2 separate regions of the Homo sapiens genome follow, and region 2 is linked to region 1. The links come from fine-mapping of genetic effects on gene expression. A gene starts in region 1. The other region holds a variant in brackets. All regions are shown on one strand. Distances are from middle to middle. Region 1 holds the start of LINC02147 (long intergenic non-protein coding RNA 2147). Region 2 overlaps LINC02147 (long intergenic non-protein coding RNA 2147).

The links. PIP is the estimated chance that this variant, and not a neighbour inherited with it, causes the effect. A credible set is the group of variants that fine-mapping cannot tell apart.
Region 2: its variant is the best candidate, but not a certain one, in a credible set for the expression of LINC02147 in gastroesophageal junction (GTEx, PIP 0.85).

What each region holds. Positions count from the first base shown.
Region 1 is chr5:117,728,756-117,733,037 of GRCh38, reverse strand. LINC02147 (long intergenic non-protein coding RNA 2147) reads right to left here and starts at 2,677. Exons shown (of 3, transcript NR_104997.1): 1 at 2,630-2,677.
Region 2 is chr5:117,749,802-117,754,083 of GRCh38, reverse strand. All of the region lies in intron 1 of LINC02147 (long intergenic non-protein coding RNA 2147), which reads right to left. Among named protein-coding and RNA genes, the nearest start is that of LINC02147, 22 kb to the right of the region's middle. The variant A/C (reference allele first, on the strand shown) is at 2,300.

The DNA.
Region 1 (4,282 bases):
CCAGGGAAGGTCACAGGCAAACACATACAGTAGGGGCTCCAACCCCTGGGCCACAGACGGGTATCAGTCTGAGGCCTGTTGAGAACTGGGCTTCACATCAGGAGGTGAGCGGCTAGCAAGTGGACAAAGCTTCATCTATATTTACAGCCACTCTCCATCACTGGCATTACCTCCTGAGCTCTAACTCCTGTCAGATCAGCAGCAGCACTGGATTCTATTAAGAGCAAATACAAACCCTATTTGAAGTGCACATGTGAGGGAGCTAGGTTGCGAGCTCCTTATGAGAATCTAGTGCCTGATGATCTGTCACTATCTCCCATCACCCCCGGATGTGACCATCTGATTGCAGGAAAACAAGTTCAGGGCTCCCACTGATTCTACTTCACGGTGAATTGCATAATTATTTCACTATATATTACAATGTAATAGAAATAAAGTGCTCAACAAATGTAATGCACTTGAATCATCCTGAAACAATTTCCCCCCACCCCAGTCTATGGAAAAATTGTCTTCTACAAACCCAGTCACTGGTGCCAAAAAGGTTGGGGACCACTGACACAGAGGCATGAGAAGGCAGATTGTCCAGGATCACTCAAGTGTAGTGGAAGAATTTAAACAGAGTAATCCAGAGGGCAAATAGAAGTTCAGGTTCAGGCCCCTAATGGTCCACCGCAGAATACAGTGACAGCTTACTAAGGCAGTGACAACTGGGACGGAAAGGAGAGAATACATGAGATGTTTAGAAGGTAGAATTAACACAAATTGTTGAAATTGAGCAATGGTGAAAATAAACCCTCACCCGTAATTCAGGACTCGCTCATATTAACTATGAATACATTCATGAAGAAAATTGAATAATGTATTTGAAATAACTGTGCCATCAGGACATATGGCTACTGTAAACCAAAAATTACCTCTGACTTAAATGGCCACTAATTATGTGGCACAACTTCTTTTTCAAGAACTGAGAAGGGATGAAAACACACACGCACACACACACACACACACACAAGCAAATTACAATGAAAAGAGGTACATGTTGGGGTGGAAGGAACAGTAAAATCCTTTGAACCATTCAAATACCTACATGATTTTATAAACCACCTTCCCGTATACTATTTGGTGAATTATCATTAAAAATCTCAAGCAAATCAGGCAGGAACATCATGAAAAAGTCAAATGATTGCAGGTAAAGAAAATTGTTTTAAATAAATGTAGCTTCACTAAACAAAATCTGCTTAATAATTTTGGCTGAAAGCTGCAGATAATATGTAGCAATAGGAGCAGGGAACTTAACATCTCTGCCAAGCAAAAAGAAACAATTCAGCAAGCAACAGTGAACTGATATGCACTAAATAAACAACCAGGCAGAAACACCGCTGTGAGAAAGAGCTTTTTATATAGCTAAGCCAAGCTGGATGGCTTAGAGTTGGAGAAAGAAGTGCTAAATATGTAACAGCCTGGGGCCTCGCTGGACCCAAATAATAGTTATTTCTGAGTAGGTCAAGCAAAAGTCAATAAAAAGGAAAGCAGGAATGGCTGTTGGGTTCATAATAGGACAATAATGCCCTTCTGGGAAAAATGTGAGTTTCAAATAGCCAGAATCGAATACTTAAGTTTCAAATGCTTTATCATAGACCACCAGTTCTGGAAATATCAGTAGAATAGCTAGAAAATAGGTAAATTCTGCCAACCAGAATAATCCCTAATACAGATTCCCTAAGCCAGTGTTTTTAACATGAGTAGAAGAATCACCTGCAATGGAATTACAAGGAAGCTTATTTAGTGGAAATTCCTGGATACCAGCTCAGACTTACCACATCAGAATTTCTAAGGAAGAGGCCTGGTAATTTAATTTTTAATTAAATTTTCAAAAGATTCTTCTGTCTTCTAACACCAGAGAACTTTTATTTTTGCGTATTTTGCATTTTGCTTTGCTTTCAAATGCCATCGTTCACAGATTAGATTCGTCAGAGAGAGAAAGGGAGATAGAAAGGGAGGGAGGGAGATCCGATAGATATATAGCCAATTTCTGGCCCAATTTTTCTTTTGCAGCAAGCAAAGGCTAAAGTAACACTCTGTAACACTTTATAACACTTTATAACACTCTATAAAGCACTAATTAGAAAACAGGTTATTCTGAGATAAAAGAACGTACAGCGAACAATTACTTTATAATCAAGTGTCAGATTGTATGGAGCAGAACATGCCCACTGTATTAGTCTGTTCTCACACTGCTACAAAGATACTACCTGAGACTGGGCAATTTATAAAGAAAAGAGGTGTATTTGTCCGTTTTCACGCTGCTGATAAAGACATAACCCAGACTAGGCACTTTACAAAGGAAAGAAGTTTAATGGAGAACTCACAGTTCCACGTGGCTTAGGAAGCTTCACAATCATGGCAGAAGGCAAAGAGGAGCAAGTCACATCTTACGTGGACAGCGGCCAGAAAGAAAAAAAGAGCTTGTGCAGGCAAACTCCTGTTTATAAAGCCATCAGATTTTGTGAGCTTAGGAACAGCATAGGAAAGACCCTCCCACCGCGTCCCTCCCACAACACGTGGGAATTCAAGATGAGATTTCGGTGGGGACACAGCCAAACCACATCAAGAGGTTTAATTGACTCACAGTTCCGCATGGCTGGGAGGCTTCAGGAAACTTCCAATCATGGCAGAAGGCTAAGGGGAAGCAAGTCACATCTTAAATAGTGGCAGGAGAGAGACAGAGTGAAGAAGGAAGAGCCACTTTTAAAACCATCAGTTCTCCTGAGAACTCACTATCAAGAGAACAGCATAGGGGAACCACCCCCAGGATCCAATCACCTCCCATCAGGTTCCTTCCTTGATACATGGGGATTACAGTTCAAGATGAAAGCCTAACCATATCACCCACAAAGGTGAATCAGAAGCTGGACTTCTCTGTGATTTCTTCCATTCTTCAGTATTCCTGAATCCCTTCCAGTAAAGTTTCTATACAACAATCTATCAGTAAGGCATTATCATTTAACAAACCTTTTAAAAATTATACAGGAAAACATTTGTTGAAGAATTTGGGATAGTATCATCTATAAAAATTTACTTAAGATGATTTTTTTTCCTTTGCTGGTAGGAGAGAAAGCAAGATAATAAATGCACTTAGTAGAATATCATAGTAAACAAATTGTTTAAAGATATATACTTTACTCTCCCGTAAGACTATGCATCTCTTGTACAGACATCCTGGTGAGAAAGTGGAACCCTAAATGGAACACTGAGCTTCAGGCATTTTTATTGGACCTCCGAGGAAAGGTACAGGCAAGTGGGGTCAGGTGTCTGGGATGATTGCAGTTGTCAGTTAAACTCTTGATATAGTTTGGCTGTGTCCCCACCGAAATCTCATCTTGAATTCCCACATGTTGTGGGAGGGACCCGGTGGGAGGTAACTGAATCATGGCGGCAGGTCTTTCTTGTGCTGTTCTCATGATAGTAAGTCTCACAAGATCTGATGGTTTTAAAAACAGAATTTATAAACTTGTGAATATATGGGTATGATGCAAACCCTAAAATCATAAATTCATCTAATAATTGTGATATCTATCTCTATAAGGCATGTATTGAGGGTGAAATTGAACCTGAAGATTTGTTAAATGAAACTATGAAATAAGTTTGTAAAGACATATGCATACTTCACCAACCTGCTCAAATTTAGATCGGCAAACCCTTTCCTCTTGATGGGAATGAATGAATGAAATCTGAATTATGGTCTGCTATTTCTTCTACCAAAAGCCATAAGCTTGAGCCAATAGGTGTGTAATAATTTTCAATGCTATTATTAACAGTGTTTATTTAGTTAATGCTCCTGATGAAATAACAATTTTTGATCTAGATTCTTTAGAGAGTGTTATTTAGAAATTAAGTTTCAAAATTCAAAAATTATTTTAAAAAAGAGTAAACTAGCAGACTCATCTCTTAAATATTAGAGTCACTTCTACATCCCAAACTCTAACCACCCAGCCAAATTTATTACTAATGGGTAGGTACAGAGGGTGTTTAAGAAAAAGATATAGATTACAGCTTTGCTTTATTCTATTTGAAAATTACTCAGCTTTGTGCCCAGCTGAACTCACTAAATTTCAGCTGTACCCAACATAGAATGTGAGGTGGATTCAGTTCTGTCCCACAGCTGACCAGCAACTACAGAAAGATTGAAGCCACTGACCTCAGGGTATGACTATAACCTCGGGGACAATAAGTAAGCAGGTAGTCCCCAGGTTGGGGCCAGACTTAAATGCTCCCATCAGAA
Region 2 (4,282 bases), 21 kb before region 1:
TGTTAGCAATGAAGCTTCTCGGTTTACATATACTACAGTTTCTTTATCCACTCATTGGTTGATGGGCACCTAGGTTGGTTCCATATCTTTGCAATTATGAATCGCACTGCTATAAACATGCGTGTGCATGTCTTTTTCATGTAAGGACTTCTTTTCCTTTGGGTGGATACCCAGTAATGAGATTGCTGGATTCAATGGTAGTTCTACTTTTAGTTCTTTAAGGATTCTACATACTGTTTTCCATAGTGGTTGTGCTAGTTTACATTCCCACTAGCAGTGCAGAAGTGTTCCCTTTTCCCAACATCCCTGCCAACATCTATTGGTTTTTGACTATTTAATTATACTACTCAGCCATAAAAAGGAATGAAATAATGTCTTTTGCAGCAACTTAGATGGAGCTAGAGTCCATTATTCTAAGTGAACTCAGAACTAAGTGGATTGAATTCCTAACTGAGAAATGGAAAACTAAATAGTATATGTTCTCACTTATAAGTGGGAGCTAAGCTATGAGGACACAAAAGCATAAGAATGATATAGTGGACTTTGGGGATTTGGGGGTAGAGATTGATAGGCGGGTGAGGGATAAAATAGTACATTTTAGGTACAGCGTACACTGCTTGGGTGATGGGTGCACCATAATCTCAAAAATCACCACTGAAGAATTTATCCATGTAACCAAAAACCACTTGTACCGCAAAACCCATTGAAATGGAAATAAAAAAAGAAAAATAAAGAAATAAAGATTCTAAGCCCCTGTCCCTTCAGACCTACTCTCCAAGTAATTCACAGATATATTAAAGTTTGAGAAGCACTGGTCTAAAGCACCAAACTTCATTGCCTTGAGCCTCCATATTTTACTGCCTTCTAACAAACATTCAAAGAACATGCACCAGAAAAAAGGCTTCATGTTTTATTTTATTTATTTATTTTATTTTTTTATTTTTTTTGAGACGGAGTCTCGCCCTGTCACCCAGGCTGGAGTGCAGTGGCACCATCTTGGCTCACTGCAAGCTCCGCCTCCCGGATTCATGTCATTCTCCTGCCTCAGCCTCCTGAGTAGCTGGGACGACAGGTGCCCGCCACCACACCCAGCTAATTTTTTGTATTTTTAGTAGAGACGGGGTTTCACTGTGTTAGCCAGGATGGTCTCGATCTCCTGACCTCGTGATCCGCCCGCCTCAGCCTCCCAAAGTGCTGGGATTACAGGCATGAGCCACCACTCCCGGCCAAGGCTTTGTGTTTTATAGTCACCTTGAAATGATATGTTTCTCCAAATTCAAGATGACTCTTCATATTACATTAAATAATGAAGACAAATAATGATGGAAGTAATTTCCTGACCCCACTCAGTGATAGATGGAGAGTGATATTTTTCAGATTTGTTTTCATTAGCGCTATCTTCAGTAATTCAAATTAAAAATCAATATTACAACAAATTTTCTCCATTTATTGTTATGAGCTGGCATCAATGTTTTCTGCATGAATCAGCAAATAACATTTTGTTTTTTATAAGATAGAGTTTATTTTACACATAAGGTTTAATAAAAAAATTGGTTTTCTTCATTTTTCTGAATTTGAATTAAAATATCACTTAGGTCTCTACTCAATGAAATACTGGAAATAAAATGCACACACCTAATCTATTACTATTAAACAGCTACTGAAAACTTCGTTTAGTATATTATCTAACTTCTTCAAAAACAGTGGTAACTCTTGTAAAAATAGAATGGTTTATTAAAGGGAATCATATTTTGATTATGTGAGTTTATTTCTTGAAACTTGTTATTTTCAGTTACCAGTTCAGATAAACTTACCAATAGACCAGAAATATCTCCATATATACAATGAGAGCCATAAAATAGGTTTTTATTAAATTTCTTCTGAGAACTTAAAATCTATATTCAGCATCTTTAAAAAGACAATCATATCAAGCAATGGAGACTCATCTCTAAAATAGCTGCTGTACAAAGCATTTACATCAGGCTAACTCCCTCATAGACAACATTTTAACATCTAAATATGTTTTGTAAAGATTACTTTCTAATTAAGGTAAATTTTGTTGAAATTTTCCATTTAGTCTTTGCCATATATCCTAAAATAAACTTGTTCATACTTTTAATGAATCTATTTATATCTACTTTTATGTGATTATCACTATGGATAATATTTATACTTACTGAGGCTGAAGCAGTAGGATCACTTGAGCCCAGGAGCTTGACACTGCAGTGAGCTATGATCATGCCACTACACTCTTGGCTGGGTGAAAGAGCAAGAGGCCATCTCTAAAAAACAAACAAAC[A/C]TGGCCAGGCACGGTGGCTCACACCTGTAATCCCAGCACTTTGGGAGGCCGAGGCAGGTGGATCACCCTGCGGTCAGGAGTTCAAGACCAGCCTGACCAACACAGTGAAACCCCACCTCTACTAAATACAAAAAAATTAGCTGGGCGTGGTGGCGCATGCCTGTAATTCCAGCTACTTGGGAGGCTGAGGCAGGAGAATCACCTGAACCTAGGAGGCAGAAGTTGTAGTGAGCCAAGATTGTGCCACTGCACTCCAGCCTGGGCAACAAGAGTGAAACTCTGTCTCAAGAAATAATAATAACAAAATAAATAAATAAATAAAAATAAAATTACATATTTTTAGTTATATATTTTTATTATTAATCATGAAATGTTTATACTGTTAATATTTTCCAAGGAAAATATGTCTAATGAACAACTTAGAACTAGTATAATATTTATTATTAAAAGTTGCTAATAGCCTTGTGTTAACTACTTTAACAAACCTGAATGATGTGGAAACTTATTTCGGAATAAAGTTATTCAGAACACATAAAAACAATATATTCAAATGTACAGAGGTCACAAGCCCAAGCATTATCTTTAAATACGTTTGATGTGTTTTACTCTTCTTGAATATTTCAGCATGGAAGCTGCACAAATGTATTTAAAAAAAAAAAAAAAAAAGCCTAAGAACTTAAAACTAAAGTGCTCATAAGGCGAAAGAGAGGATTCTATTGAGCTTTAAAAGAAGAATGAACTTCAACTTCATGTTATTTTTCAAAGATATTCTTGACTGAATGAGTAGGGTGCTAATTGCCTGGTGCAGGTGAAAGAATATTGAGTGGTAAATCTTCTTTAGCCATTAACTTCTACGGCCTTCTGCAGTATTTCTTACCAAAGTTCTCTCTTGAAAACTCCTTATCTGAAAACAATATTGGCAAAACTAAACCCCATCCTCTAAAGCATCTATGGATTTTTGAATAACTCTAGGTTGTTAAAATGGATAATTAATATAAATAAATTTGAGATTAAGGAAAAACAACTCAATTTCTAAAATTGGTTAAGGACATGAACAGGAAATTCACACAGACACACACACACACACCCTTACACATACGTTAAAATAATGAATACGATTTTGTAAACATACCCTAAATTATTTATAACTAAGAAACTGCACCTTAAAAAATTGTAATAATAACTTTTATCTCAGTTTAGAAAATATTAGAAAGCTTACCATAGCTAGTGTTGGTAAGCATTGGTAGAAATAAAAAAACCATACATTTTTGATGGGAGTGTAAATTGGTACTGTCTTTGTGAAAAAAATATTTTAGTGTTATCTACTAAAATATTAAATGCACATGCCCTTAATCTAGCAATTTTATTTCCATTAACACACTCTACAAAAGATTGAAAACATACTTAATATTATATGTATAAATCACCAATGGCTATTACTAATATTAAAAAGCTGGAATGAATGAGATAAATCTAAGTATAACGATATATAAAAAATTATTCAAGTCATTAAACAGAAAAGTCAACAAATATCAAATAGAATGATTTCATTGCTATTAAAATTACTATTAAGCTTTATATATGTATACCAATATATAGGTAGATAAAGATAGAAATAGATGCTCTTGACCCCGAACAACACAAGTTTGAACTGTGTGTGTCCATTTATCCTGGAATTTACTTCTGCCTCTGCCACCCTGAGACAGCAAGACCAATCCCTTGTCAGCGTACTCAATGTGAAGACGGTGAGGATGAAGACCTTCATGGTGATCCACCTCCACTTAATAAATAGTAAATATATTCTTTCTTATAATATTCTTAGTAACATTTTATTTTCTCTAGCTTACTTTATTGTAAGAATACAACTTCGCTTCTGGGCAACAGTAGGGTATTCATAGTTATGTTTCTGGGGAGTCAAAAGTTATACAGATTTTCAACTGCATGGGGAGGGGGCTGTGTGTTTAGGTAACTCTAAACCCCATG